Homo sapiens: one gene and its partners. The protein of the gene in region 3 interacts with the protein of the main gene of each other region in a biochemical or structural test. Each region holds a gene or a part of one and is shown on either strand. Other genes may lie near its edges.

Region 1 (6,505 bases), on a different chromosome or scaffold from region 3:
GATCGCCATAAAGCTTGCTGTAGACTGTGTCGATAGCCGCCCGCACAGGGCAGGTCGTACTGTCCGTTTCTGTGCCGTGCTGGTGTTTTCCAAAAATGTCTGATCCAACCACTAAGTGGAATTCTTCCATCTCCTTCCTCAGTCTGTACAAGGCTGAATCAGAATCCCCATTCTCGGGGGCTCTGGTTACCGAAGGAAAATGCATCAAAGAGTTAAAGAATATGAGTGGATGGAGTGCAGCTAAGGCCCCCACCCCCTGCTCCGTCACAACTTGCCCCCTCAACCAAAAAGCTGCTTTGAGTCAAAAAGCACCCATAAGATACCTGCATCTGCCTTGAAATCTTGCAGCATGGAGTGTCATATGTACTCAGGAGAGAGGCAGGGCTTTGCGGGCAGGAGAAGGAAGGGAGGAATGCTCTGAGCTGCAAAGACCCAGTACTCAAGTTCTGACGTGGGAGGAGATGCAGTGAGACGTCTCTTGTTGCCTAAAGCCTGTTCCTGTTGGTTTTCTTAGAGTGATTTCTCCTAGACATGTGCAGTAGGCCCACTGGGGCTGCTGTGCAGTGGTGAGTAAAAGGGCAGGGAAGGCATGGACAGCCTGGTCCTTCTGCATGGACAGCTCAGTCCATGGCCCATCCCAGGTATAGAGTTCAGTTAATCCCATTTGAGCCTGCAGCTTAAGAGATGGCTCATCCTAACTGTGAAGCAAAATCAGCCCCAGAGGATGTATTGATCTGACTCACTGATGTCAAAATTGCAGTATTTTTTTAGCATTTGAGATTTAGCAGCTGCCTTCAGTTTGGGGTTACCCACATCCCAGCATCAGATATGATTAAGGAAAGAAATTGGATGTACAACAGCAAAGAAAGTGAATGTCATGGTTTCCCTGGCCAAAGAAGAGGGACCCTGTCATCCTTACCAATGGGGAAGAAGAAAACTAGTGCATGTGCAATATGTCAAAGTTAGTCCCCTAGTCCCTGAGGGGTTTTTACACACAGATGGGCTCCAGGTCTGCTCGTCAAGTTTGGAGGTACCGGGTAAATGGAGGGGAGCTGCAGAGTTGGAAACCCACATGCATGGATGTGTCCTTGGCCCAGAACCACCATGGGATGGGGGAGGCCCTGAGCCGGCTACAAGACACCCAGGAAGTAGGCAAAGGCTGACTTTGCATTAAACAATAAAAGCACTTTGAGAAAACCCCAACACTTCAGCCTGGGTCCGTGTTTCTACACTGGAAAATACGAGTCTCCTTTGGCTGTGTGAAGTGATCTTCTAGAGACTGGGACAGGGAGTTTGGGAATGGGGCTGCTGTCAGGTAGGAGAGAGCAGAGATGCCTTTGGAGATGTCAGCAGCAGGAGAGCCAGTGCTGGGGCCAACCCTTTGCTGGCCTTTTGTTGGAAGCCCTTGAAACAGGGAGCCATGGGTTTAGATCTTGGTACCTACCTTTACAGAAAGATGAAAACAGCCCAGCTGAGTGAAATGAGTTTGTAGAGTAAGTCACTTAACTGTAAGCCATCTCAGAATCAGAAACCCTAATGTTTCTTACTTGCTATGTGACCTTGGGCCCCTGTTTCCTCATCTACCAAATGAGAATGTTGAATATGAGCATTAAAGTCCCTTTCACCTCTGAGAGGCTCAGATCCCCAACCAGGAGCATTGGGAATCCATCACTCCTCCTTGAAACTGATTCCATTCTCTGACTTGACCCAGCTCCTGTTCAGGGTGAGGGTTCTCTGCAAGAACCAACCAGCAGTAGGTTCAATCCCACTGTGTCCTGGCTGAGTTGCCTTATCCAAGAAGACCAGCTCCCCGGGACAGATCTAAGCCATAGTTTCTAGTGGGGACAGTAAGGAATTAAACCCCCAACTTGGCTAGGTAACGATGTCAAATCTCACATTAACCTTGTCTTTGTCCCCACTGGATAGCTGTTAATCCGAATGTTGTGACCATTTGGCTGTTTCTCTCTTGTTCTCAGACAATACTAGCAATACACTTTTTTTTTTTTTTTTTAAAGAAAAACAGCTTAGGAGCTTTTCACACATTTCTTTCAAATGATTGTAAAACATATGGGGCAACAGGAGGCATTGATCGCGCTGCATATGTTTAGGGCAGCTTTTGTTTTTTGTTTCTTTAATGGTATAGCAGCAGTGACTGAGCCTTCGTGATTCCTGGGGACAGCTTTTCAGATACTCTGTTTCATCAGTATGCTTTGCACATCCGGAAGGAGTACAAAAATCCAACTGCCCAAATTTGGGGCTTGGAAAATAGGTTTTATAGGTGGTCGGTCCCTGGGCTGTGCAACAACTCCTCAAAGAGGGGTTTATATAACTAGAACCCCCCTGGGCTGTATTTTTGGTCAAAGGAGTCTCCAAGGCGGCTTACAAAAGCTTCCTTTTTCACTTGACCACCCTTGCTCATTGGTTACTTGTGAAGGGAATTGGTCAGTTTCCACCTCAGCACTTTGCCTTATCAACATGCGGTCGCCATCTAGTGGCCAAAGGTTGTCTCCACCAGCTACCCAGATGGAAGGCAAATAAATCCTTTCGGCCACCCTGCTGTCCATCGTGAACTTTGGGAATGAAATATAATGGCCTGAACGAACTGCCTTTGTGTTCAGAGATCAGTGCAACACTAGGGTCAGAAGACTCCAGAAGCAGCCACTTAGTAGACTCTCACGCAGAACTGAGAAATGCACTAGCTGTCCTGTGGGCAGAAGAGACAGGAGTGGACCAGGAGAGGTCCAGGTGCCCGGGAAGGGTTTACTGTAACTGCAATACTGGCAGCCCAGCTGCTGACCTTGTTAAGTAAACCTTTGCTGGGTGGTCCGAATTCTGCCCTCAAGGCAAGATAAGAAGTTGGGTGTAAGGATTTTGTGGGGGGCCTGGCCATGATCTTTGATATGATCCCCGAATAGCCAAATAGTTTTTTTTGTTCAATTTTTTGTTTCTGTATTTTGTATTTTTAAAATCTTGTCAAATGTTTTTGTGTTAGGAATAAAAAGTCATAAACTATTCCCAACTTTGTTTCTTGAGGGATGTTCTGATTCCAATGGAAACAGGTGGGAAATCTCAAGGGGAGCGTGGACAAGGTGGTATGTGCAGCAGGGGAATAGACTGCTTGGATTTCCAAATGGTTTCTGGGGAAGATGACCATCCAGAAGTCCAGCTTAGTGCAGTCTGCTCTGGAATTCACACCCACCCCCTCGCCTCCTTGTGCCATGTTGTTAGCATTGGCTTGGAGCATCTGCTTCTTCCAGAGGCAGCTGCTAATGTTGAAACCAACACGAGCCCTCTCCCCAACCCCAGGTTTCTAAAGAAGGTGTCTGTAGCCAGCCTTAATCAACTGGGCAAGGTGGTCCCTATGGTCCTTTCCAGCATTTCCAAATCTTGGACTCAAATTATTTTCTCTTGGTGTGACCACACAGCCTAGAGAATTCTGAGCAATAGGAGCCAGGGCTTTCCCTGACTCTGCGACAGGGTCAAACCAAGGAATGGCTAAACCTGTGAGGTTTTGTCATCCCCGGGGGTACTACTGTAGGGGGCATTATTTATTAGGAAGCTTAACAAGGTAACTACGGCCTGAGTGCGTGAGTGTAAGGCTGTGTTTGTGGTGGGGGTGTGTGTGTGTGTATCTGTGCACACATACACACGTCTGTGCCTGTGTGTGTGTGTTTGTGTGTGTGTGTGTGTGTGGAATTACATTGATGCATTTATTGAGAAAGGTGCAAGAATTTCACCTACACAGAGGGACACATCTGCTTTGTTATTTATAATAGAAAGCTAAATTTTAATTTTTTAAAGGACACTGCTAATGATTGAGAATCAAGTTTTTAGTTTTGCTATTTTTTTTAATTGGTAGAGGATTTTTATATATTTTTTCCATTTTGTTGGGTTGTGTCCTTATTTATATAAATACTTTATCCGTAAGAGGCAAGGAGGAAACCTTCTTTGCTTTTACATATTGTGGTTGTCATCGTCCCTATTTTATTTCTGGTGTGATTTCTCTGTCTTACCTTCTAAATGAGAAAATGTTTTCTTGTATTTGTACATTGTCAGATTCTATAGTTTCCTAGATAATTTAACCAAATTGCTCTATGTATTATTATTCTGTGAGTATAAAGTTCTATTTTAATGTCTGTAAATACTTCAGAACTGGCTTCTTTTCTCAAACTCCCACTGTGGGGTTATTGTTTACATCACAGAAACTGTAGAATCTCTATGCTCATGTACTGTAAATAGTGAAGTGATCTGCTTATAAATAAACTTAACAAATACACTATGGAGATTAAAAACAAAATACCACCCACAGCTTTGCCCATGTGTGTTTTTCCTTGTTGGTCCTGGGAGCTCATTGAGGGACACTCTGACCACTAAATGGGGAAGAGATTTCAGTTTTCAGCGTCACCTTCTCAGATAAGACCCCGGATGATGTCTGCTCCTCACCTCACCACACTTCTCCCTCCTTCAGAGCACTTTTCACAGTTCATAATATCCATTCGTGCCAGGCACAGGGGCTGAGGTGGGGGATCACTTGAGCCCAGGAGTTCAAGGCCAGCCTGGGCAACATAGTGAGACCCCCATCTCTGAAAAAGTAAAGTAAATAAAATATAATAAATAAATAAAATAACCATTCAGACTCATCTCACATAACAGCTGTTCCATGAACGACTTTTTGCCCTGACTTTTATAAAGCTATACCACTTTCTGAACAAAGACTTCCTTGTTTTGGTATATCAACTTTCACATAAGCACATTGAATAAATGCACTGTAGGAGGTATTTTGGCATTGTGGTTCCAGGCAAAACACTCATCAATTTGTAATTACAAAATGGTTTCTGGTCAGAGGATCTCATAGAGAGCAGGCCTGCATTGTGTGCGGTAATTGAATGAGCTCAGAACATTTTCCTTTGTGTACTTCCAGCAAGTAGGGTGAGGAAGTGGCATCTTCCAAGACTCTCAGTTGCGTGCCTGTGTGTTATTTCCTCACGTCTCAAAGGGGTTAGCCTGTATTTTGCCCTAAAGCTGTTTTTTGTGCTTTAACTTTATTTTTAAATGCCAGACACCCATAAGCCCCAAAGGGTTGAAACACTGGCAAAGAGAATTATATATAAACAAGAACAGGCTGGGCGCGGTGGCTCGCATCTGTAATCCCAGCACTTTGGGAGGCTGAGGCGGGCGGATCACCTGAGGTTAGGAGTTCGAGACTAGCCTGGCCAACGTGGTGAAACCCCATCTCTACTAACAATACAAAAATTAGCCCGGCGTGGTGAGGGGCGCCTGTAATCCCAGCTACTCGGGAGGCTGAGGCAGGAGAATCGCTTGAACCCGGGAGGCGGAGGTTGCAGTGAGCCAAGGTCGTGGCAACAGAGCCTGGGCAACAGAGCAAGACTCCATCTCAAAATAAATAAATAAAATAAGAACAGGTGCAATGAATGATTACATTTTATGTTATGTGCAAACTATTTTCAGGTTGCTATTTATTACATAAACTCATACAAACTCATACATATATTCTCCTTGTTCAGGTGATTTATTTTCCCCATCTGTAAAGATTGTTTGGATTTCTTTGATTGCAAGGGAACACATCATGATTTTTTCCCATTAAAATTAATAGGAACGTTTCCACTTAGGGGCAGAGTTCTCTGGTGTGATGAGAATATGTGTGTGATTGAGGGCTCAGTACCTGTTGCCCATCTGTTGTAAGCTTCAGGAGAACAGGCCTGCCTTTCCGTTCACTGCAGGGCACTGGCCCCATCAGTCAGGAATTCCTGAGTAGATCCTACCCGTAGTGCAAGGAATAGGATGGCAGATGCAGAGCCTCAAGACCTGCCTTTGGGACCCATCTCTGCCACTTCTGTATTGTGTGAATTGGGCAGACCACCTCCTTGGTCCCTGGTTTTCCCAAATATGAAACAATTTGCTTAGCTGAACTCAAAGGTCCTTTATGTTCTTATGTTCTTTAAAAACAACAATAAAACCTGATTTGCAGAAGCAGTATGGTACAAGGAAAATGCTTACAAGCTGGGGTTCTGGGGTTCTGGTGTCAAGCTGCTTGGCTTTTTTTTTTTTTTTTTGTGATGGAGTCTCGCTCTTGTTGCCCAGCTGGAGTGCAATGGTGCAATCTCGGCTCACTGGAACCTCTGCCTCCTGGATTCAAATGATTCTCCTGCCTCAGCCTCCCAAGTAGCTGGGATTACAGGCACCCGCCACCACACCCAGCTAATTTTTGTATTTTTAGTAGAGACAGGGTTTCCACCATGTTCGCCAGACTGGTCTCAAACTCCTGACCTTAGTTGATCCATCCACCTCGGCCTCCCAAAGTGCTGGGATTACAGGCATTGAGCCACCACGCCTGGCCTAAGCTGCTTGGCTTTGAAACTTGGCTCTACCGCTTATCAGCTAGGTGTCCTCGGGCAGGTTTTCTAACCTCTCTAAGTCTGCTCCTCACCATGTGATAAATGGAGCTAGTAACAGTTTCTCCCTTGGAGTATTGTTGTTAGGATGA
Region 2 (4,687 bases), on a different chromosome or scaffold from region 3:
GTCACCTGAGGTCAGGAGTTCGAGACTAGCCTGACCAACATGGAGAAACCCCGTCTCTACTACATATACAATATTAGCCAGGCGTGGTGGCCCACGTCTGTAATCCCAGCTACTCAGGAGGCTGAGGCAGGAGAATCACTTGAACCCGGGAGGCTGAGGTTGCAGTGAGCCAAGATTGCGCCACTGCACTCCAGCACGGGAAACAAGAGTGAAACACCCTTGTCTCAAAAAAAAAAAAATTACTTTACACTAAATCAAGCAATCTGACAGTCTAAGAATGTTTCTCAATGAATACTACCTCTAAGTGGTCAACAGCTTTGCCTGTAACGCATTATGACGTTGTGTGACCATAACAATTTAATTTCCATTCATTTTATAGGTGTGAATGAGTTTACTAGGAAAAACAGTTACCATTGTTTCCATGTTTCTTGGAGGTGGTATTCATTTAGAACATTCATAGACTGTCAGATTACTTGGTTTAATACAGTATTTTTCAGTTTCAATAGTATAAAGTACAAGAACACTAATGTCAAATTGTAGTATTATTTTAGTGGTTCATCTACTATAAGCTTGATGACAATCAGGAATACCTGGGAAAAAGAAAAACCCTCATCACTATATATTCTCAGTATAGACAAGGTTCCTGGGTACAGCTATAAATATCCAGGTAAGGGGATGACAAACATGTAAATTAACCCAAAGACAGGTAGAGGGTTTAAAGACAGGTAGAGGGTTTAACTAGCTTCAGCAACACCTTATTAAACAGAAACAGCTTCTCAATTCAGTTACTTTCCTTCTGCCTTCTACCTCCTACCGTTAGGCCAGTCAGGTGACCAACAGCCTTTGCTAGCAAGAAAGAGTTAAGTTAGATTGCCAGATCTCTACCAGCTCTAAAACCTCTATGATACTGCCATATACACGAGGGTCAATTCTAGCTAGTATACTAGGAATATTGAGAACATCCATGATGATAAAGACAAATTCCAAAGTAACCTCCCCTAAAAAGAATATAATGCCAGCCAGGCATGGTGGCTCACGCCTGTAATCCCAGCACTTTGGGAGGCTGAGGCGGGTGGATCACTTGAGGTCAGGAGTTCGAGACCAGCCTAGGCAACAAGGCAAAACCCCGTCTCTACTAAATATACAAAAATTAGCCGGGCATGGTGGCACATGCCTGTGATCCCAGCTACTTGGGAGGCTGAGGCAGGAGAATCACTTGAACCCAGGAGGCGGAGGTTGCAGTGAGCCCGCGCTACTGCACTCCAGCCTCCGCAGCAGAGCAAGGCTCCGTCTCAAAAAAAAAAAAAAAAAAAAAAAGCCAAAGTGATCTTCTGGTAGAAATAATACAGATTTTATATCCATGCATTGCCAGGACAGTGAAGGTAATACAGACTACATATGGAGATGGAGGAACAGCAGCAAACCATGTGCTCCCCTGTGGACTCTCCACTCTTCCTATCTGCCTTCTTTATACAGTATCTTCCCTCCTAATCTTTGGTTTTCCTGACTTTCCCTTTTCCTCCAAATTTTGGATGGTCTATTTTACAGAATATAAAGCACCCGAACAGCTGTCTCATAATATGAAACATATACTAGCTGTCATCTATCACTACGTTACAATTACAATGGGAAAAGACACCAGATATTGTAATACATTTTGGACAAAACCTTTCAAAAGCAGCAAGGCAAGGAGATGAAACCAGAGAATCACTTCCAACGCTGTAACTTGTTAACTGTTCTACAATAAGCCCATCTTCATTTCTAGCAACTTTGCCAAGACAGAAATAACCAGGTTGTTATCATTATACAGCTTGGTTTACACAGTAGGGCACCCACCTCTTCCAAACTAAAACCATGCTGTGAATGATTACAAACAGATTCAGCACAACACTAGTGAAACTGTACAAAACCATGCCCTTGGCGTCAGAACAGTTTGACATAGGAATGCCGAATTTCCCACTGCGTAACATTAGATGAGTTCTTCCAAAATTATTAAGCTCTAGTATTTGAACCAAGGCTGACAGAAGCATAGAAAAACAACACCATGTTTAGACCTCCCCCAAATGCCTGGTTTTCCTTAGGCTTTACTAACTTCTAAAGGAGGCAAAAAATAGACCTACGAAGTTACTTGTGAGGACCTACCTTTAGTAGCTTCTCGGTTCCTTAAATGAGGAGGAATATAGCGCCCTTCTAAAAAAATATATATATATATAAAATTAATTAAATGCCAAAAAACCTTCCCATTTAAATTTCTGTTACTAAAAAATGGTTCTGGGAAATTAAAATCTCCAGCCTTCCAATCTGATTACTTACCTGGACACTGAGAGGGGGGAAAAATAAGAATCTAATTTTAAATGGGTTACTGCTTCATAAGGAGAACTCTGAAAGGAGTTTGATAAAAAAAAGCTGATTTGGAACCTAATAGTTGAAATCCACAAATTGAGCACATTTAGCCACCAGTGGTCATTTAATGTGATTTTTTTAAAGGCCTGCTAGATTTAAGAGAACTGTCATCAAAACTGTCAACAAAAGCATTAAGTATTACTGTAACAATTTAAGATTACTCATGTAACATATCTCACAATCTTTTGTTTCTATGCCAGTAAGTTGCAAAACATACAATAAATAAACAAGGAAAAGCTGCAAAGGGGAGTTAATTTCAAGGAATTGCAGGTTTTAATTTGGGGCTTGCTGAGTTTAAGGAAAGTTGACAGTTGCTCTGTATGCGAGCAGGAGTACAGCCTAGAATATGGATAAGCAAAAAAAACAACATAAAGCCAAATAAATTTGCTTTATAACTAGTAAACGTGTCATTTTTCTTTTTCACTTCTAGACTGAATTAAATATTTTTAAAAATCTCTACTAGGACAATCAGTTCCTAAAAGATTCTTAGCATGACAAATAAGGTGAAAGTTAAAGCAAACACCAAGTTTTGTTCCCAGTGAAGCTGTTCTTGCCTAAAAATGAGGACACATCATAGCCCATACTCACTTTTGTTTTAATAAGTAGGAAGAGATCTGAGCTAAAAATAAGGGTCTATTGCCCTTATAATAAACCACCAAGATCCCCTATCTTAACACTAACCTCTAACAAGTCTCTAAATAACCCCCCTTAGAAGAAAAAAAGCAACTTTTCTAATGCCTTTTTAAAAGAAATGACACATTTGAAAACCTAACCTAACCACCAATCCAAAATTCAGTATAGTCTTCTGTTCTTCAGGAGAAAGGAGTAGCTATAACCAATGAAATGCATATTCCCTTAATTCAATTTAATAAATATAGTCAGTTAACAGGGACACATTCCCATCACCTCTAAACTGGGCTCAGGATTTATAATGGACAAAAACTCTTCTAGAGATAATTTGATATAATAAGGTTCTTTCCAATGATTAGCTGCTTTTACTCAAGAGAGCCAGCTAGTCATTGATGTTTTATTATCAGAAAGGCACAGCTATTCGGGAGGCTGAGGCAGGAGAATCGCTTGAACCCGGAGGCAGAGACTGCGGTGAGCCGAGATCACACCATTGCACTCCAACCTGGGCAACAAGAGCAAAGCTCCATCTCAACCAAAAAAAAAAAAAAAAGGCAACGATGCTTTAGATTGATCACTAAGTACTACATAATTCTATAACACAAAGACTACATAATTCTTTAAGCAGTAAAAAATTGAAAGGCAAATTTCTTAAATTTTACATAAGCCCAATGAAATCTTAAGATGTTAAGCTCTAATATTCAATAAACCCACAAGATGTTGTACTTACTGCTGGCTGTACTTCCTCCACTCTGATTATCTGAAGAGTTCAGGTCTAGGCCAGCAAACTAGAAGAGAGTGAGATGGTTAGCACCCCATGTGCTCAAATACTACATTAAGAGAAAACTAGTCCTGCCCTCTAGCATTTGCTAGTACTGCATTCAAGTAGTTGCCCAGTCCACCTCACAGGGCTAATACCAACCCTTAATGAGAATGTGACTAAGAATGTTTTCAAGTCTGCAATGCTCTAAGCAAATGCAATATTACTATTGTATATACTACAGAAGGCGGCACACCAAGATGCTTGTGCTGTTCAGTAGAAACTGTCCAAATTTAATTCATGCATTCAAAATAAATTTTCACTAACATGTTCCATAGCACAGGCTCCCTAATCACCAAACTAAAGCTTACACTGAATCTCAAAATTATTCCTCAATGTCAAATAGATAAAGGATTCGTTTTAGTGCCGGTTATGAAAGTTTCCAATGCCAACTTTCCGTAATACTTGATATTTTAAACCTAAAATGCACACCTGAAAAATGTCAGGACAAATTTCGAAGTGGCCGTTCTTTTAGTTAGATACTTCATCCCTAAATATTGCCCAAGTATTTTTAGTCGGGTAGTACTCTTAAGAACAACAAAAAAATAGCAATATACCTACCACTTACAGAACACTATGTTAAGCACAACTCTTAAGTAGTTTGACTGTTTCGTTTGTTTTTATTTTTATTTTTTTTGAGACAGAGTCTCCCTCTGTCATCCAGGCTGGAATTCAGTCATGTGATCTCGGCTCACTGCAACCTCCACCTCCCCGAGTAGCTGGGATTACAGGGGTGCGCCACCACGCTAGGCTACTTTTTGTACTTTTAGTAGAGATGGGGTTTCGCCATGTTGCCCAGGCTGGTCTCCTGACCTCAGGTCAGGTGAACCACCTGCC
Region 3 (6,792 bases):
GGATCTCAGCTTGTGTGCCCAGGGGCCCCGCAAATTCTCTGAGGAACGAGAAAGACTTGGGCCGAGAACAGTCACACTCATGTGGCCTCCTAGGAGGGTCTGGACACATCTCCCATCCCTCCCATCCCACAGGCAAAAGCTACTGCATCTACACAAATGTGAGGGGGGCCGTAGAGGCAGGTGGAAAGAGGATCTTGGGCTGGGTGCCAGGAGTCCTGGGCACTACTGCTGATGCTGCCACTAACTCGCCTGTAAACTTGGGCAACTTCGCTTTCCCTGCTTCAATTTCTTCTGGGCCTCATTTTCTCTAACCATAAAAGGCAGCAGTTTGACTGGTCTGTTTCCAAATTTAAAAAATTTAAAAAATTTAAAAAATTTGTTTCCAAATTTAAAAAAATAGCAGCAGCTGAACCCCCTTTATTTGTCAGCAAATCTTTCAGCAAAGATAGACCCCTTTGAAGAAGATGACAAATGCAATGGGTCAGCCCCCGGGAAAATGCAAGCGTGTGTGCCACACAGTCCACACACACGCACACACGCTACGCACAAGCACACACACGCACCACACAGTCCACACACACGCACCACACAGTCCACACACAAGCACACACACGCACCACACAGTCCACACACACGCACACACCACACACAAGCACACACACACCTTACACACCACAGTCCACACACACCACACAGTTCCCACACACGCACACACACCACACACAAGCACACACACACCACACACACCACAGTTCACACACACCAAGCAGTCACACACACGCGCACACACACCACACAGTCACGCACACACACACCACAGTTCACACACACCACACAGTCCACACACCACACAGACACACGCACACACACACATATATACACACATGTGTACACATACAGTACACACACATGAACACAGAGTCCACACATAAGCACACACACGCTCCACACACATGCACACACATACACACAGTCCACACATGCACACAGTCCACATACATTGCACACACTTGCACATAGTCCACACACATGCATACATACAAACACATCAACACACACATATACAAATGTGTGCACACATACAGTCCACACATATACATACACATACACACAGTCCACACACACATGCTCACATGCACAAACATACACACATACACAGACACACACACACACACGTGTATTCATAGAAATCCTGAATCCAACCTTGGATTCCTCAGGGGCATCCAGTTAAGACCCAGAGAGGGCCATGCACTGTAGGTAACAGCACAGCCTCTGAAGTCCTTCTGCCCAGGGTTCAATTCCAGCTTGCCCACTTTTTAGCCGTGTGACATTGACTGTGTTCGTTTACTTCTCTATGCTTTTGTTTCCTCACTTGTAAAATGGGGAACGTGATATTCCCCTAGGTTCGTTATGGGGATTCGGTGAATTCTCATATGTGTATGTGAAGTGCTTGGCACATAGTAAGCACTATATCAGTGTTCATGAAATAAAAACTTTTCCACATAGGAAAACTCTCGGAGCAGAGGACTTCCAGGCTCCTTGCACAAGCAGACACTGCCGCATCTCATTTCTGCCATCGCAGACTCCCAGGTGTCCCCAGGAGTGCAGCCCCCTCCACTTGGTGAATTATTCCTGGAGATGGGGATAATTGTTAAGCCACGTGGGTGCCCTTTCTCCCTCGGCCTCTCCTCCCCCGACCCCCGGGGAGAGCTGACCCCCACAGCTCCTGGCCATTCAGCAGGAGGCTGGGGAAGTAGCTCCCACCTCTGAGGCAGGATGGGCTGGGGGCTGTCAGCTCTATCATCTCCCCTCTGAGGTCAGCCGAGCACCTCTATTCCACAGATGAGGACACTGAGGCTTAGAGAGGAAAAGTGGCTTCCTGGTGTCATCGCACTGCTTCCCGTGAAGCAGAGCCATGGGTTTATGGTCCAGGCTTGCTGGGCTACTCCAGCCAGTGCCACACATGTTGAGGTGTCTGCTGGGCCTCTAATGAACAAGGAGCCACCCAGGGCTGCTGCTCCATTGGGGTGGGGAGAGGACGGGGGAGAAATATCCTTGGAGCCTTTCAGACACCAGCCCAGGATGTACTCAAAACACTTCAGAGGACAACTTCACATAACCCCAATTCAGACCACTTCAAACTCCAGTGAGGAATGTGGGGACCCTGCTTACAGATGCTCAGAGCCCTTGAGATGACCCATGGTGGGGCCAGGCCCTTTACCAGGGCTAAGCACCCAGGCACCTCATCTTATTTATCCTCTGGCCAGCCCTGGGAGACAGACACTATTATTTATTCCCATTTTATAGGTGAGGAAACTGAGGCTCAGAGAGGAAATTGCCTTGCCACATTCACACAGGTTGGAAGGATCTATGCCGGATTTGAGCCCAGATCTTTCTGGTTCCAGAGCTGGAGGTGGTCTTGTCTTTGGGACTCCCAGTTCAGGGGCTTGGCCTCTGCCTCAGGAGCACACAGTTCCTGGGCTTGGAAAAAGTGATGGGGGCGGGGAGCAGCCCAGGGCAGGGCAGTGGTCCTCGTGGGGCCACACAACACTCCACCTAGTGCAGCAGCAGCTTGTTTGCTATCTCTGGTGTGTTTTTGCCTTGCGCTCCTGGCGTGGTCCTCAGACAGGCCTAAAAGCCGTCCAGCCAGCAGGCCTGGGGGAATGAAGCCTGTTTTGTAGAAGATACAGAAGCCAGGATAGGGGAGGTGACATGCCCAAGGTCACACGTGACTGGACGGCAGGGGCAGGTGAGCACCTGCTGAGCTGACAACAAGCAGTGCCCAGCAGCTGCCTCCTCACCCTAGCTGAGCTGACCACAAGATTCCAGACCTCAGCTGGAGCTGCAGCCTCATACTGGCTGAGTGGCTCCAAGACACAGAAGGAAGCAGGGTGGCAGGCTGACCTCAGCCAGCTGCCTGCCCCCTCTCCTCTGAGGCTGGCCTGGGACCGATGGGGCTCTTCCCTCCAGGAGGGGTTTCCGGGCCTCCTCTTTTCCCCTACCTCCCTGTGGAGAACTGTCCACCCCTCCAGATATGCTCCAGTGATGTCGGAGGGGATGCCTCAATCTGGCGAGACGCAGCGGCAACAAAATCTGCTCAGAGACAAACGGACATGTTGCTGATATGAATCTCACTTGGTGAGTGGCAACAACAGAGTCCTGCATTTGGGTCTGTGCAGTCGTGCACACCAGAGACCGCTGACCCCCGCCCGCAGCACAGGGAACTGCATATATACACAGCAGGTACAAATATGGGCACACGACAAAACGCCCATACAGGATAAAGATGCAGGAAGAACAGGGCACTCCAACAGGTCCGCATGCACAAACGCATGTGCTCTATGACCCGCACACACAGCACACATGTACAAACATCCACAGACACAAGTACACACACATACACACTTACATACATAAGCAAGATCAACACGGGCAACTCCTAAGACACAAACACAGACCCACTCAATGAATACAAAGGAAAATAGACCCAGAACTCACACACAGAGACAAATGAACACACATATGCAAATGGGTTCCTGAAGGCATCACCCCACCCATACAACCTACATGGAAACTCACTATCACACACGAACGCACACACAACACACACAGTGCTGAGTTGGCTTCGTAGTTAGCAAAACTTCCCTGAGAGCTCCATTTTCCCTAAGTGCCAATTTCATTTCCCTAGGAAAGTCCCAAAGACACCGAGAAATGCGGTTATGTCTCCAACCACCATCTCCAGGGATACAACATCCCTTGCCGTCTCTCTGAACCTAGGCCCAAGGGGTTCACGAAGGGGCCGTGCTGGGCTGAATCGCTGGAGCTGGGCACCAAGGGGGAGCTCACCATCACGTCACTGTGCCAAGCGCCAAGCAGAGCCACTGTGAGGCAGTGAGGACTGGAAGGGCCTGGGAGGAATAGCCGGGATCGACTTTTGCTGGAAATTGGCCCTTGCAGGCCTCCCTTCACCCAGAATGCCTGTGATCACTGTGCCTGGGCACATGGGCTTCACTTGGCAACACCTGTGCTGGCCTGTAGGACCAACCTACCATTTTGTATCATTCTCCTCCCACCCCAAAGTTGAGTGCCAAAGATCTGCTCCTGGACCCAGGCACACCTGCCCCCACTGGCACACCTGGGCACATCTGCCCCCACCTACCATTGCCCATCGTCAACACCTGCACATTCTCAAATTCCAGGGTGGTGTAGGCTGGGTCCAGTGCAGCACTGTAGTCGGCCATGTCCATGTCGACGAGGGTTTTGGAGAGTCGCATTCTCCCTGCCTCCACGCCGCGGCCACCTGCCCTACCCTGGGCGCCCACCCCGAAGGCCCCCGCCCTCCGCCCTCCCACTGCCTCCTCCCAGTGCCCTCTCTGCCTTCCTTTCAAACCGTCCTCTGGGAAGATCTGCTGGGAGTCTTGGCCTAGCCTCTGTGAAGGGGTGGAGGCTCTGCCGGGGAGGGGTGGGGGTTAATGGTTAATCGGTCCCCCGCCGGTGGATAGGCTGGGCGGGGCTGCAGGGATTTGGCTGTTTGTTGGTTTCTGGCTGACACCCGGGGTGCTAATTACAACTGCTGGGGCCCTAACTCACCGATGTTCAGTTATCAATTGTACAAGGCAGGCATCATGACTCACGGGCACTCATTTGACCCTTGACTCACCCACCCCTCCAAGCCATTGTCACCCCAAGTCAGGCATTCTAACTGATACTATCAGGCACTGACAGCCTACCTCCGAGATCCCCTAATTCAATAACTTCCCAAATCATTGACTTCTACCCTCAATGCTTTTGCAGAGATAAGGCTGCCCCATGGCCCACGATTTAGAAACCTAAATCCCAGGCCCCAGATGCCAATCTTCTGGATCCTTGTTCTGGGAGCTCCCTTCCAGTTCCCCCGCAGTTTCCCGGTTCCCCTGGGAGCAGAATGGACTGGAAGTTTGGGAGGGCCAGATTCACCTCCAATTCCCCGCTCCTGCTCCCTGTGATCCCACCCTGCCCCTCTCCGTCTCCCACAGCTCCCAGTGTTTCTGGCCCAGGCTGGCTCCATCTCGGATTTTCCCATCACATTCTCCTGTTTCCCTCACCCCCACCCCCTCCCGGAGCAGGCAGAGACCTGGATTTACATTCAGGCACCTACCGTCTACTAACTGGGACCTTGGGTAAATGATTCTCCTCTCCGAGCCTCAGTTTCCTTTTCTGTAAAATGTACAATCAACTTCAAAGGGTGGTTTGAGAAGGAAATGAGATGGCATAAATCAAGCACCAAGTGGGGCCTGGTAGACGTCCATCCTCTTCCCCCTCCTCCCTCTCCCTGTTTCGTATCCCCCTTGCCATCCCCCTGTTTCTCTCCACCCGTCTCCTACCTTCAGAGTGGGCTTTGTGGGGGTATCGCCAGTGCAGTCACAGGCAACCCAACCCTTAGAAAGTCCTGGTTCCTGGTTCAGTGCTCTGCTGTGGTTGTCCTAAAATTCATCATGACTTTTGAACAAGGGATTGTGCATTTTTGTTTTGGACGGGGCCCTGAAAATTACACAGCTGGTCCTGGCTGTCTGAAGCTCATGGTGCACTCTGTTCTTCTCACTCCCTCCAGCCCTCATTGCCTTCTGTGCAGACATTTTCAAGGGCTGCCAATCAATCTGGGGAAGTAAAGTCTTGATGTAGAAGGCAGAGAGTGAGGGCAGAGGAAGAAAAGCCTGAGACTTGGGAGGCCTGGGAGCCTGTCCTCCACTGCTGGCTGGAAGGGCAGGTTGGAGGGCCTCGGTGACACCTGTGAGCAAGAGTGGGCGAATTAGTGGGAGCACCAATTAATGAGTGAGTGTGTGGGGGAATTGATGAGTGGGTGAATTAGGAGTGAGTGAATTAGAGACAGGGAGAATTAATGAGTGAGTTGAGTGAATGCATGAATGAGTGAGTGAATGAACGAATGAGGGTAAATTACTGAGTAAGTGAGCAAATGGGTGGGTGAATTAATGAGTGAATGGGTGGGTGAATTAATGAGTGAGTGAATGAGTGAATGTGTGGGTGGATTAATGAGTGAGCAAATCGGGAGTCAGGGCATGTGTGTTCGAGTGGTATGAGGAGGCATCTTCATGTTCTTTCCACTGCTAGAAGCCCTTTCTCTGCCCTGCTTAGCTTTATTCTGTCCACTTGATCTGACCTCTGAAGCTGAGATGACTGGGGAGTGCTATTGCCTGTAGGGAAAGGGGAGAGGGAGCAACTGTTGTGGAGGACAAGAGAGGCTAGATTTGATGTCAGGAGACCTGGGGTTAGGAACTAGCTCAGTCACTATTCCGATAACTTTATTTACATCGTCTCTTCTCAGGGCTTCAATTTCTCCCTCTGTAAAATAGAAAGATGATCCTGGCTCAGTTTTCTGTTAGCCAGGACAAGACTCTGAGGGAGGGAGCAAGAGGCAGCCCCCTGCAACCCACACTATGAGACTTGATAAGGGGCTGAAAGAGACCAAATACCGGCGGGTTCCTCCCATGCCTACCTCAGGAGTATCTGACCTGGCTCCACCGGCCTTGGGGGCAGTGCAGAGGTGGGAAGAAACAGAAGATCCGACCAAGGGGTAAACACAGAAGAGATGTGGAGGGCAGCTCCGGGAGGAGCCTCCAAGGGCTGAGCCCAGGCCTCTGCCACCTGCCTGGCACCTATGGCAGGCCACAGGCACAGCTACTCCCCACACAATCCAGGAATACATGGCCTCTTCCACTCTGAGGCACAGTTCCACATTGCTTAACGGGGAATGTGATCAATGTCATGTCAGAATTTCATTGGCAACAAAAATAA
Region 4 (6,792 bases), on a different chromosome or scaffold from region 3:
ACTTGACAACAAATTGCGGACATGTTTTCATGACAATACACATTGACCTTCCTTGTTCTTTCTAATGGATAAATAACATTCCATTGTATTAATTATATTATATAACCTAATTGTACTCAACTCCCCCCTAGGGAGCCATTTGGAAATCTGAGGAGGTACCTTTTTGTTGCCACAATGACCAGTGCCCCACTGGCATTCTGCAGGCCCCTAAAACAGGGATTCTAGGTATCCTACAATGCTCAATACATTCTAATAAAAATTGACTTTTTTGTGTGTCCTGTGCAACTTTCAAATGTCCCACCAGACATTCAAGTGAATGAAAAATCTCATATGACCTAGAAGCTAATTCCATGTTATATATAAAGCAAAGTATTTTTGAGAATTTTAATATGCACTGAAATTTCCAGACAGGCAATTGTATATAAGTCTAGAGGAGAATGTATTTTGTTTTGTTCAGAACGTTTAGTTATTCTAGCTTGTGGTGTTTCTTAGTCACCAACATGACACGCTTGAATCATTCTGCATTTGTATATGCACAGTGATTCAACATATGGGTTCAAGTATCTAGTACTTAAATCATGTCTTCTATTGTAATTATGTCTAAACATATTGAAATACATATTGCTTTATTATAAATTGCATTGTTTTACCATAGATTACTTCTCTTGTATTTATCTCTTTTATTATAGTTAGAGCATTATTATTTTTAATTTTTGAAATTATGTATGCCAGGCATGGTGGCTCATGCCTGTAATCCCAGCACTTTGGGAGGCCAAGACAGGTGGACCACTTGAGGCCAGAAGTTCAAGACCAGCCTGGTCAAGATGGCGAAACCCCACCTCCAATAAAAATACAAAAATTGTCTGGGCCTGGTGACGCACACCTGTAGTCCTAGCTACTCGGGAGGCTGTGGCATGAGAATCACTTGAACCTAGGAGGCAGAGATGGCAGTGAGCTGAGATCATGCCACTGCACTCTAGCATGGGCAACAGAGCGAGACTATGTCTCAAGAAAAAAAAAGAAATCACATATGTAGACATATTGTCTTATGTATTTTATTTCCAAATAGTAAACTTGGCTGATTGCAAACTCTCCCTCCCAGACTCAGTGATCCTCCCACCTCAGCCTCCCTAGTATCTGGGACTACAGGTGCATGCCACCATGCCCAGCTAATTTTTTTTTTTTGAGACGGAGTCTTGCTCTGTTGCCCAGGCTGTAGTGCAGTGGCGCGATCTCAGCTCACTGCAACCTCTGCCTCCCGGGTTCAAGCGACTCTCCTGCCTCAGCCTCCCAAGTAGCTGGAATTACGCCCACCAACACACCCAGCTAATTTTTGTATTTTCAGTAGAGGCGGGGTTTCACCATGTTGGCCAGGCTGGTCTCGAACTCCTGACCTCAGGTGATCCGTCTGCCTCAGCCTCCCAGAGTGCTGGGATTACAGTCGTGAGCCATTGTGCCCGGTCTTTTGTATGTACATTTCACATCTGTTCCTCAGGATATATATTTTCCTAGAACTAAAATTGTTGAGTGTACAGTTATTGAGCATTTTTAGGTTTTTGATACACAGAGCCCAACTGTCCTTCAAAAGGTATTTCAAAATTTTTTAAAATCTAAGAGAAAGACTTTTTATCTAATTTTTCACTGAGATAACAGGAAACAAGAGAGAGGCTTTTTTTTTTTTGAGGCGGACTCTCGTTCTGTTGCCAGGCTGGCAGGCTGGAAGGCTGGAGTGTAGTGGTGCGATCTTGGCTCACTGCAACTTCTGCCTCCCAGGTTCAAGTGATTCTCCTGCCTCAGCCTCTCAAGTAGTTGGGACTATAGGTGTGTGCCACCATGCCCAGCTAATTTTTGTATTTTCAGTAGAGATGGCGTTTCACCATGTTGGCCATGATGGTCTCAATCTCTTGACCTCGTGATCTGCCTGCCTCGGCCTCCCAAAGTGCTGGGATTACAGGCGTGAGCCACCATGTGTGGCCGAGTGAGGCTTTTTAACCATCATTCAAATTCAATAAAGGGTTAATAAACTTGACTACATTAATAAAAAGAAAACAAAAAACTTTTTTTGGCAAAAACACCATAAGGAAAGTAAAAAAGCAAGTATACTTTAAGAAAATATTTGTAAACATATCAGAAAAAAAGCACTGAAATCCCTAGTATGCAAACAACTTTAAAAAATTGAGAGGGAGGCCGAGGCAGGCAGATCACCTGAGGTTGGGAGTTCGAGACCAGCCTGGCCAACACGAAGGAAAGCCCATCTCTACTAAAAATACAAAAATTAGCTGGGCATGGCAGCATGTGCCTGTAATCCCAGCTACTTGGGAGGCTGAGGCAGGAGAATCGCTTGAACCCGGGAGACAGAGGTTACGGTGAGCCGAGATCGCACCATTGCACTCCAGCCTGGGTGACAAGAGTGAAACTCCGTTTAAAAAAAAAAAAAAAATTGAGAGGGAGAATAAAAGACCAAAGATCCTGCTGCGAAAGACACAAAGACAATTTGGGGAAAAAAAAGAGACATAAAATGGCCTTAAACATATGAAAAAATGTTCAGCTTCACTCATAAGCAAGATAAAATTTAAAACTACCCTGACATATAGTTTCTCACCCATCAGATTGGCAAAAGTTTCAATGCCTGACAATATAATTAGTCAGGCTGTGGGAATATAGACACTTTTTTTTTTTTTTTTTTGAGAAGGAGTTTCACTCTTGTCGCCCAGGCTGGAGTGCAGTGGCACAATCTTGGCTCACTGCAACCTCTGCATCCCAGGTTCAAGCGATTCTCCTGCCTCAGCCTCCTGAGTAGCTGGGATTACAGGCACGTACCACCAAGCCCAGCTAATTTTTTGTATCTTTAGTAGAGGCTTCACCATGGTGGTCAGGCTGGTCTCGAACACCTGACCTCATGATCCACCCACCTCGGCCTCCCAAAGTTCTGGGATTACATGCCTGAGCCACCGCGCCCAGCCGGGGCACTCTTACGTATCACTGGTGGGAATACAAAATAGTACAACTCATATAGAGGGGCATTATCTTTTGACCCAGCAATCTCACTTCCAGGAATTTTTTACCATGAATATACATTTCCAATAATACAAAAATACACACATCCAAGGTTATATATAATATTAGATGTAATTGCAAAATACTACTTAGATGTCCAAGTATAAGCAATTATTTGAATAATAACATATCCACACAATGAAGTATTATGCAACTATAAAAAACAGAATGAGGACAACCTCTACCAACTAATACAGTATTTCCAGGAGATACTATTAAGTGAGGGGAAAAAAGTACAATCCTGGTGCTGATTGAAGAATTTTTTTAAAAGTACAAAAGAACACATATATATAGTATGCTATCTTTCCTATAAGAAATTAGAGGCCAGGCACGGTGGCTTGTGCCTGTAATCCCAGTACTTTGGGAGGCCAAGGCGGGTGGATCACCTGAGATCAGGAGTTCAAGACCAGCCTGGCCAACATGGTGAAATCCCGTATACAAAAATTAGCCAGGTGTGGTGGCAGACACCTGTAATTCCAGCTACTCAGGAGGCTGAGGCAGGACAATCACCTGAATCCAGGAGGTGGAGACTGCAGTAAGCTGAGATCGTGGCACTGCACTCTAGCCTGAGTGACAAGAGCGAAGCTCTGTCTCAAAAAAAAAAAAAGAGAAAAGAAAAAGAAAAAAATTAGAGTAAAAAACAGTCCTCTTTTCTTTGCAAAAAGGATTAAGGGACAGATTAAACCAGAAAACAATGAAGTTGGTAAGTACAAGGGGTTGAGGGCAGGGGATAGTGGAATTATATTGATGTTGGGAGCCAGGGTTCTCACTGAGTAGAGACATGTGAATGAGGAATTAATGCAGACAAGAAAAAAGCCCATGATGATGAATTAGAGGTATCAATGTGAACTCATGATTTCCTCAAAAGAAGTATATGTGTACGTAAATGTGCATGTGTGTATGTATACTGGCATATATGTATATAGCACATAACATGCATATATTTCCTAGTTCTGTCAGCCAAAAGGGCCAAGATGCAAAAATATTCTAGTAGATGAAAAGATCTCGGTCTCTGATATGACTCCCTTGTAAAAGTACCAGGACTCCTCAGAGAAGTGGCTGATTCCAGGGCGGGGGGAGTACAGGATGCACTTGGAGTATTTAGTTATGCCAAAAAGGACGGAGATGCTAAAAAGAAAAAAAAAATGATGAGAGTACGCTATAAGGATGTAGGAGCCCATTTGAAGGGACTCCCAGTGGCCAAATTTGGAATAATCCATGAACCTAGCTAGTTATGTATGCTAATAAATCGTAAATCCTTGAAAAAATAGGAATTCCTGTGTCCATAATAAAAAATAAGTAAAAAAGTGAACAGATAAAGAAAATGCGGTACATATATACCATGGAATACTATGCAGCCATAAAAAAGTAATGAGATCACATCCTTTGCAGCAACATGGATGGAGCTGGAGGTCATTATCCTAAGCAAACTAACACAGGAAGAGAAAACCAAATACCCTCTGATCTCACCTACAAGTATGAGCTAAAAAAACAAGAACACATGGACACAAAGAGGGGAACAGAAACCAGGGCCTTCTTGAGGGTGAACAGTGGGAGGAGGGAGAGGACCCAAAAACTACCTCTCGAGTGCTATGCTTATTATCTTGGTGACAAAATAATTTGTACACAAAACCCCTGTGACAAGAAGTTTACCTATATAACAACCCTGCACATGTACCCCTGAACTTAAAATAAAAACTAAAAATGCTAACTAGTAAATGTGGAGAGAGCACTAGATTTGGCAGGGGGTGGGGGGGGAATCATCTTTTTGCAACCTTAATAGTAAAGATTGGGCCAGGCATGGTGGCTTATGCCTATAATACCAACACACTGGGAGGCCAAGGTGGGGGCATCGCTTGAGCCTAGGAATTCAAGGCTCCAGTGGGCTATGATTGTGTCACTGCAGTCCAGCCTGGGTGACACAGTGAGACCCCATCTCTTAAAAATAAAAAAAATTAAAAAATAAAAAACATATATATACACACACACAGAGACAGACAGTGCACATGCAAATGACAAAGCAGATGGAGTAAAAGGTTAACAAAAGGTATGTGGGTATTGTTTGTATTCTTATTCTTGCAACTTAAGTTTGAAATTATTTCCAAAAAGAAGTTTATTTTGGACACTCCCAGCATTAGAGCAGTCCACTTAGATTTCTCTACATGTAAAATGAAAGAGTTGAACTAGATGTGTCTGAAGACTCCATTCTCTCCTAAATTTATATTAGGAGTGTGATCAAAAAGTAAATTAGAGCTCCTTTAAGAAATTGTTCTGTCAGGCCGGGAGCGGTGGCTCACGCTTGTAATCCCAGCACTTTGGGAGGCCAAGGCTGGTGGATCACCTGAGGTCAGGAGTTCAAGACCAGCCTGACCAACAAGGTAAAACCCTGTATCTACTAAAAATACAAAAATTAGCCGGGCGTGGTGGCAGACGCCTATACTCCCAGCTACTCGGGAGGCTGAGACGGAGAATTGCTTGAACCCGGGAGGTGGAGGTTGCAGTAAGCCGAGATCATGCCACTGCACTCCAGCCTGGGTAATGCAGCAAGACTCCATCTCAAAAAAAACACGAATTGTTGAAGAGGAAACAACACCCAAAAAGTACTTTTCTGATTCTTCTCATTAGGATACTACTAAACATCTAACAATGGAATTTCTATTTCTGCCAAATCTCATATATTCAGAATCAGGGAAAAAGAGCAGTATAATTTTTTTTTTTTTGAGACAGATTCTTGCTCTTGTCACCCAGGCTGGAGTGCAGTGGCATGATCTTGGTTTACTGTAGCCTCTGCCTCCCAGGTTCAAGCGATTCTCCTGCCTCAGCTCCCGTGTAGCTGGGATTATAGTTACTCGCCATTACCCCCAGCTAATTTTTGTATTTTTAGTAGAGACGGGGTTTTGCCTTGTTGGCCAGGCTGGTCTCAAACTCCTGACCTCATGATCCACCCACCTCGACCTCCCAAAGTGCTGGGATTACAGGCGTGAGCCATGGCACCTGGCCAGTATAATTTTTTTATCCATAGTTATGGCTACTTGAATTTACTTCATACATACCCCATAATTCTCTAAATTATTCTACCGTGGTTTACTCTTAGAAACAAGTTCCACATCAAGGGGGAGGTGGGATGATCTTTCCTTTATCTTACCACTGACACATTTCTTATCAAGGTGCCTGAAACATGTTATTGGTCTAAACAGAAATCCCATGGCTTTTCTAGGTTTAACTACAGGTTAATCAGAATATGCCTGGTCCATCTCAGCCTCATTTTCTTTTTTTTTTTTTTTTCTTTTTTTGAGACAGAGTCTCACTCTGTCGCCCAAGCTGGAGTGCAGTGGCACAATCTCAGCTCACTGCAAGCTCCGCCTCCCGGGTTCATGCCATTCTCCTGCCTCAGCCTCCCAAGTAGCTGGGACTACAGGCGCCTGCCACCATGCCTGGCTAATTTTTTTTATTTTTTACTGGAGACGGGATTTCACTGTGTTAGCCAGGATGGTCTCCATCTCCTGATCTCGTGATCTGCCTGCCTCGGCCTCCCAAAGTGCTGGGATTACAGGCGTGAGCCACCACGCCCGGCTGCTTCATTTTCTTGTAAGACCCAGGGTCATATGTTTGTGTCATGTGTTCAATGGGTAATCAATATGTATTAATTGATTTTATTTTGATACTCATAATTCCCTTAGAATCAGAGTCAAAGGGCTTTATTGCCTAACTTCATCGTTTATTTTTCTTCCTTGA
Region 5 (6,792 bases), on a different chromosome or scaffold from region 3:
ATGAGGATGGCACAACGAAAAGGTAGTTACTTCTAAAATTTTAAACTATGCAACTTCTGAGTAAGGATAGTGAATTAAATGTATCTATCTATTTCTACTCTCTTCTCTCTTCACTCACACACAGGAAAAAAATTTTTAAAAGCAAAAATTTTTACACAAGACATAAAACCACAAGGATGGAAAGAATAAGAGAAGAAGAGCAATAATTTTTTTGAAACTAGAGATAAAATGGACTATTGCCTTGGGAGATCGACAAGAACTAAATCCTAAACTGACAAGGGAAAAAGCAGAAAACCAACTCAATTTACGCTATGGAATTCCCCAAAGTCTCAGAAGCTGGTGAGTCCAGGTAACTCTGGGTATGCAGGGTAGGGTGAATGAAGTGAAAATAAGGAGAATTAGTTCAGCATCTGTTTACTACAGAGATGGATTCCTAGATCCTTTTCTCTATTCCTTCTAACCAAGGCAACTACCCCTCTCCATTCTGTCAAAAGACAGATTTACTCTCTGGAGAGTATAAATCAAAGGTCTTACAGTCTAGTGAACACGACGTAAAGGTGAAAGTGAGGGACCCGTACTGAAAACAGGAAAACTAACACCAATGTATGCATACTACATGCTTCATTTTTCTTCTGTGTTATACTGCCTATTTCCTATATTTCGTATCTCCACTTTCTTGGTTTACTATCTCCTACTGGTAGAGCCTATCTTCTAGTGGATTCCTGAAAGGGTGTAAGAAATGCCTTGGATGTATGAAAATATTTCTTCTATTTCACTAATTGATAGTTTGCCTAGCTATGGAATTCTAAATTAGAATTTATTTTCCCTCAGAATTTTGAAGGCATTACTCCAAAGTTTTTTTTTTTTTTTTTGAGACAGAGTCTTCGCTCTTTTGCCCAGGCTGGTGTGCAGTGGCGTGATCTCGGCTCACTGCAACCTCTGCTTCCCAGGTTCAAGCAATTCTCCTGCCTCAGCCTCCCAAGTAGCTGGTACTACAGGCACACACCACCACGTCCAACTAATCTTTGTATTTTTAGTAGAGACGGGGTTTCACCATGTTGGCCAGGCTGGTCCCAAACTCCTGACCTCAGGTGATCCACCTGCCTCAGCCTCCCAAAATGCTGGGATTACAGGCGTGAGCCACCAAGGTCAGTCAGCCTGTTCCAAGGTCTTCTACTTTCCAGCATGACTACTGAGAAAAAAGACCAATCTGATACCTGAATCTTTTGAATGTGAATAATCTTATTCTCTCTGAAGCTTATAGGATATTCTCTATCTGATGCTGAAATTTCAGCATAATGGGCCTTGATGTGTGCACAGCCCCTTTGATCTGGAAACTAATGTCTTTCACTGGGACACTTTATTTAAACAGAAACAAAGAATTCTGTTAAAAGAAATAAAAATGATGCCACTGGAGAGAAGGAAATGAGAGAAAGGGAGCAGAGGACTCCCTTATAATTTTTTTGTAACAAACATTTTATAAAACTATCTAAGTCTTTAAATATTAATATATGGATGTATAGTTTTGATTTAAATAACTTTTATATATGTATGTATACACACATACATATACACACACACACACGTATATTTGGCAAAAGACCTGAGAAGAGTTAATAACCCAGATAAACACATAAAAAATAAAATCCAAACACTTATAGTTCCTTAGCCTGGGGAAATGAAAAACTGAATTGTGATAGTGATGAAAGATACAGAAAGGTAGGAAGAACAGCAGATTTAAAGGAAATACTGGTGAGTACATACATATATAGGATGTTAAAGATTATTCAAATAGAGGCTGGGCGCAATGGCTCACACTTGTAATCCCAGCACTGTGGGAGGCCAAGGCAGGTGGATCACTTGAGGACGGGAGTTCAAGACCAGCCTGGCCAACATGGTGAAACCCCATCTCTACTAAAGATACAAAAAATTAGCCAGGCGTGGTGGCACACTGTAGTCCCAGCTACTCGAGAGGCTGAGGCACAAAAATCATTTGAACCTAGGAGGCGGAGGCTGCGGTGAGCCAAGATCGCACCACTGCACTCCAGCCTGGGCAACACAGAAAGACTCTGTCTTTAAAAAAAACAACAACAACAAAAAAAAACAGATTACTCAAATAGAGCTGGGCATCGTGTCATACACCTATAATCCCAGCTACTAGGGAGACCAAGATGGGGGGACTACTTGAGCTCAGCAGTTCAAGACCAGTCTGGGCAATACAGTGAGACCTCATTTCTATAAATTAAAAAAAAAAAAAACTATTCAAACAGAGATGCAGCCAGGCACAATGGCACACACCTGTAGTCCAGCTACTCAGGTTGCTGAAGTGGGAGGAATGCTTGAGCCCAGGATTTCAAGACCAGCCTGGGCAACATAGTAAAACCCTGTCTCAACTTTAAAAGAAAAAGAGAGAGATATCTTTTAAATAGATAAAAATATAGGAAAGTAGTTTATGTGAGAAGCCAGGAATGAAATTTTTGGAGTCTTTTATACATAAAAGATAAATAAAGGGTGATATGGTTTGGCTCTGTGTGTCTCCACCCAAATATCATGTCAAATTGTAATCCCCAGTGTTGAAGGTGCAGTCTGGTGGGAGGTTATTGGATCATAGGGGTGGTTTCCAAAGGTTTAGCACCATTCCCCTAATGCTCTCTCATGATAGAGTTCTCAAGAGATCTGGTTGTTTGAAAGTGTGTAGCACCTTCCCCTTCTCTCCCTCTATCCTGCCAGCCATGTGAAGACATGCTTGCTTCCCCTTCGCCTTCCGCCATGATTCCAAGTTTCCTGAGGCCTCCCCAGCCCTGCCTCCCATACAGCCTGCGGAACTATGAGTCAATTAAACCTCTTTTCTTCATAAATTACCCAGTCTCAGGTAGTTATTTATAGCAGTGTGAGAATGGACTAATACAAAGGGAAGAGGACTATGGTAGGTACCAAGTGAATGTCAAATTGAAGTAGGAAGGCAAGCAGCTAGAAAGGCAGGTAGGTGGGCAAATGGGAAGAAATGAAGGAAACTGCTTGGTTTACTATTTAGTTCTAGCCCCAAGCCGGGCACTGTGGTGTACACTTGTAATCCCAGCTACTCAGGAAGCAGAGGTGGGAGGATCATTTGAGCTCAGGAATCCAAGACCAACGTGGGCAACATAGCAAGACCCTGTCTCAAAAAAGAGTCAAGACCCTGTCTCAAAGAAGAGTCCTAGCCTCAAGGGTGAGAAGAGAAAAGTAGAAGCATACTGAACAAGAGAAAGAAACAAGCAGAAAGATAAGCAAAAAGGACAAAGAAGGAACAATCAGTGATAAAGACCTAGCAACAGTGTCTCTGAAACCAAGTTTCTAGGAGAGGCTCAATTATGGAGTATCAAGAACTTGTAGAGGATTCTAATAACAATCCTAAAAGCTGCAGTGCATGATTCATGCCTGTAATCTCAGCAATCTGGGAGGCCAACAGCAGGAGGATCACTCGAGGACAGTAGTTCAAGACCAGCCTGGGCAGGCCGGGCGCGGTGGCTCACGCCTGTAATCCCAGCACTTTGGGAGGCCGAGGTGGGCAGATCACGAGGTCAGGAGATCGAGACCATCCTGGCCAACATGGTGAAACCCCGTCTCTACTAAAAACACAAAAATTAGCCAGGCGCGGTGGCACGTGCCTGTAGTCCCAGCTACAGGAGGCTGAGGCAGGAGAATCGCTTAAACCCGGGAGGCAGAGGTTGCAGTGAGCCGAGATCACGCCACTGCACTCCAGCCTGGGTGACAAAGCAAGACTCCGTCTCAAAAAATAATAATAAAATTTAAAAAAAAAAGGACCAGCCTGGGCAACATAGCGAGATCCTGTCTCTACAAAATTAAAAAATTAGCTGGGCATGATGGTGCATACCTATGGTCCCAACTATTCAGGAAACTGAGGAGTGAGAATCGCTTGAGCCTAGGAATTGGAGGTGTTGCAGGAAGCTATGGTCACGCTACTGCACTCCAGCCTGGCTGACACAACAGGACCTTGTCTCAAAAAAACCCTTAAAAGTATTTAAAGAATTGAAACATAGAACTAGGAGAAAGAAATATAGAATGTTAGGCTGGGCGCGCTAGCTCAAGCCTATAATCCCAGCACTTTGGGAGGCTGAGGTGGGCGGATCACAAGGTCAGGAGATCGAGGCCATCCTGGCTAACACAGTGAAACCCCATCTCCACTAAAAACACAAAAAATTAGCAGGGCATGGTGGTGGATGCCTGTAGTCCCAGCTACTCGCGAGGATGAGGCAGGAGAATGGCGTGAACCTGGGAGGCGGAGCTTGCAGTGAGCTGAGATCGTGCCACTGCACCCCAGCCTGGGTGACAGAAGGACACTCAGTCTCAAAAAAACAAAACAAAACAAAATGAAGAATTATAGAATGTTACAGAAAAGATTTTAGGAAACTACTCCTTTTTTTTTTTTTTTCCTAGAGACAGGGGCTCACTCTGTCAACCAGATTAGAGTCCAGTGGCATGATCATGGCTCACTGCAGCCCTGACCTAGCAAGCTCAGAGATCCTCCCACCACCTCAGCCTCCCAAGTAGTTGGGACTATAGGCATCCACCACCACATCTAGCTAATTTTTTTATATATATTTTTGTGGAGACAAGGTCTCCCTATATTGCTCAGGCTGGTCTCCAACTCCTGGGCTTAAACAATCCTCTCACCCTGGCCTCTCAAAGTGCTGAGATTACAGGTATGAGCCACCACACTCAGCCTGGAAACTACTGTTCTAGCTCCTTTTTTTAGCACCTTGCACTTGGTTCTCCAACCAAGCAATGCCTTGCCCCCAGGCTGCCTAATGTGGTATTTCACCCTTTTCATCTACAAAAAAGACAATACTCCACCTACCTCCTTCTCAAAAGATATCCATTGTACTATATTTCAGTAGGAAGGTGACTCTAAGTCACAATGGAAAAAATCATAACTTGGAGATTAAGAATGATGACTGTGTAGATGGACTGCCAACAATAAAATTCTGTCTCTAACTTCTAGTAGCTATGTGACTTCAGACAAGTTACTTATTCACTCTCTGTGCCTTAGTTTCCTCATCTGTAAAACAAGAATAATAATACTTACCTAATACGATTGTTATAAAAATTAAATGAGAACAGCTGGTAAGTATTACTAATAAATATTAGATATTATTATAGTTAGTACAAATTCATGATGTCAATGGCTTAATTAGTTTTATCCCTTCAAAGGTATTTCATATTAACAGTGGGTTTTACATTCATTTTTATTCCACAAACATACATTGAACTCTAATCCAACATACTAGGCACCCACTGTAAGCACTGCAATGCTCTGGTAAACAAGGAAAGCAAAAGTTCTGCTCTCATGGAACTTATATCCTAAGTATGCTGGTTTTGTTGTGTTTTTTGAGACAGGGTCTCACTCTGTCTCCTAGTCACCCAGACAGGAATGCAGTGGCACAATCATGGCTCACTGCAGCCTCAACCTCCCAGGCTCAGGTCATCCTCGCATCTCAGTCTCCCACGTAGCTGGGACTACAGGGAATGCTACCACACCCTGCTAATTTTTTGTATTTTTTTGTACAGATGGGGTTTCACCACGTTGCCCAGGCTGGTCTCAAACTTTTGGGCTCAAGCAATCCACCTACATCAGCCTCCCAAAGTGCTAGGATTACAGGTATGAGCCACCATGTCCAGCCCTAAGTATACTGTTGAATCCATAAACTTACTTGTCCATTCAACTACAATGAAAACGTGGAGGGAAAATATAAAATGGGCCTCAGAGGGTGGCTCACACCTGTAACCCCGGCACTCTGGGAGGCCGAGGCAGGAGGATTGCTTGAGCCCAGGAGTTTGAGACCAGCCGGGGCAATATAGTGAGACCCGGTCACTATCTAAAATAATAAAAACTTTAAAACAAGAAAATACATTGACGAAATTATGAAAAGTGACATAAATTTGAAGAGTTTATGTGAAAAGTTGGAGACAGTTGCTACAGACTAGACATAAAGATTAGCAACAAAATAGGAAAGTGCAGCCTGGCATATAGAAGGAACTTAATTATCCACTCCTTTCCCTGGGTTTGTCTCCTTAAGTGTAAAATGATAGGTGTTGTCATATTTCCAACCTGAAGATTCACTGATGTCTACTTACTAAAGTCATTATGGCATATTAGGCAGTCGTGGTTTTTTTTTTTTTTTTTTTTTTTTTAGACGGAGTCTCACTCTGTCGCCCAGGCTAGAGTGCAGTGGTACGATCTCAGCTCACTGCAACCACCACCTTCCAGGTTCAAGCGATTCTCCCGCCTCAGCCTCCCGAGTAGCTGGGATTACAGGCACCTGCCACCATGCCTGGCTAATTTTTGTATTTTTAGTAGAGACAGGGTTTCTCCATGTTGGCCAGGCTGGTCTTGAACTCCTGACCTCAGGTGATCTGCCCACTTCGGCCTCCCAAAATGCTAGGATTACAGGCATGAGCCACCATGCCCGGCCAAGGCAGCATTCTTAAAAACAGATGGCGGCGGAGCATGGCGGCTCACGCCTGTAATCCCAGCACTTTGGGAGGCCAAGGTGGGCGGATCACCTGAGGTGAGGAGTTCAAGACCAGCCTGGCCAACATGGAGAAACCCTGTCTCTATTAAAAATAAAAAATTAGCCGGCGTGATGGCAGGTGCCTGTAATCCCAGCTACTCGGGAGGCTGAGGCGGGAGAATAGCTTGAACCCAGGAGGCGGAGGTTGCAGTGAGCCAAGATCACGCCATTGCACTCCAGCCTGGGCGACACAGTAAGACCCTGTCTCAAAAAAAAAAAA

What was found.
Region 1: the proteins of HNF4A (region 3) and PPARGC1B form a complex in vitro, tested with the Homo sapiens proteins (one study listed by BioGRID).
Region 2: the proteins of HNF4A (region 3) and DDX3X form a complex in vitro, tested with the Homo sapiens proteins (one study listed by BioGRID).
Region 4: the proteins of HNF4A (region 3) and TADA2A form a complex in vitro, tested with the Homo sapiens proteins (one study listed by BioGRID).
Region 5: the proteins of HNF4A (region 3) and ARNT form a complex in vitro, tested with the Homo sapiens proteins (one study listed by BioGRID).

What each region holds. Positions count from the first base shown.
Region 1 is NC_000005.10:149,850,715-149,857,219, forward strand, and holds the end of PPARGC1B (peroxisome proliferator-activated receptor gamma coactivator 1-beta), read left to right. Parts: 3' UTR 1-4,308; downstream 4,309-6,505. UniProt on the Homo sapiens protein: Plays a role of stimulator of transcription factors and nuclear receptors activities. Activates transcriptional activity of estrogen receptor alpha, nuclear respiratory factor 1 (NRF1) and glucocorticoid receptor in the presence of glucocorticoids.
Region 2 is NC_000023.11:41,336,539-41,341,225, reverse strand, and holds part of DDX3X (ATP-dependent RNA helicase DDX3X), read right to left. Parts: intron 3,819-4,687; coding exon 3,761-3,818; intron 3,536-3,760; exon of another isoform or gene 2,191-3,535; coding exon 2,143-2,190; intron 1-2,142. UniProt on the Homo sapiens protein: Multifunctional ATP-dependent RNA helicase. The ATPase activity can be stimulated by various ribo-and deoxynucleic acids indicative for a relaxed substrate specificity.
Region 3 is NC_000020.11:44,398,855-44,405,646, reverse strand, and holds part of HNF4A (hepatocyte nuclear factor 4-alpha), read right to left. Parts: intron 5,768-6,792; exon of another isoform or gene 4,275-5,767; coding exon of another isoform or gene 4,160-4,274; intron 3,094-4,159; coding exon of another isoform or gene 3,003-3,093; intron 1-3,002. UniProt on the Homo sapiens protein: Transcriptional regulator which controls the expression of hepatic genes during the transition of endodermal cells to hepatic progenitor cells, facilitating the recruitment of RNA pol II to the promoters of target genes. Activates the transcription of CYP2C38.
Region 4 is NC_000017.11:37,411,769-37,418,560, reverse strand, and holds part of TADA2A (transcriptional adapter 2-alpha), read right to left. Parts: intron 1-6,792. UniProt on the Homo sapiens protein: Component of the ATAC complex, a complex with histone acetyltransferase activity on histones H3 and H4. Required for the function of some acidic activation domains, which activate transcription from a distant site. Binds double-stranded DNA.
Region 5 is NC_000001.11:150,865,128-150,871,919, forward strand, and holds part of ARNT (aryl hydrocarbon receptor nuclear translocator), read right to left. Parts: intron 1-6,792. UniProt on the Homo sapiens protein: Required for activity of the AHR. Upon ligand binding, AHR translocates into the nucleus, where it heterodimerizes with ARNT and induces transcription by binding to xenobiotic response elements (XRE).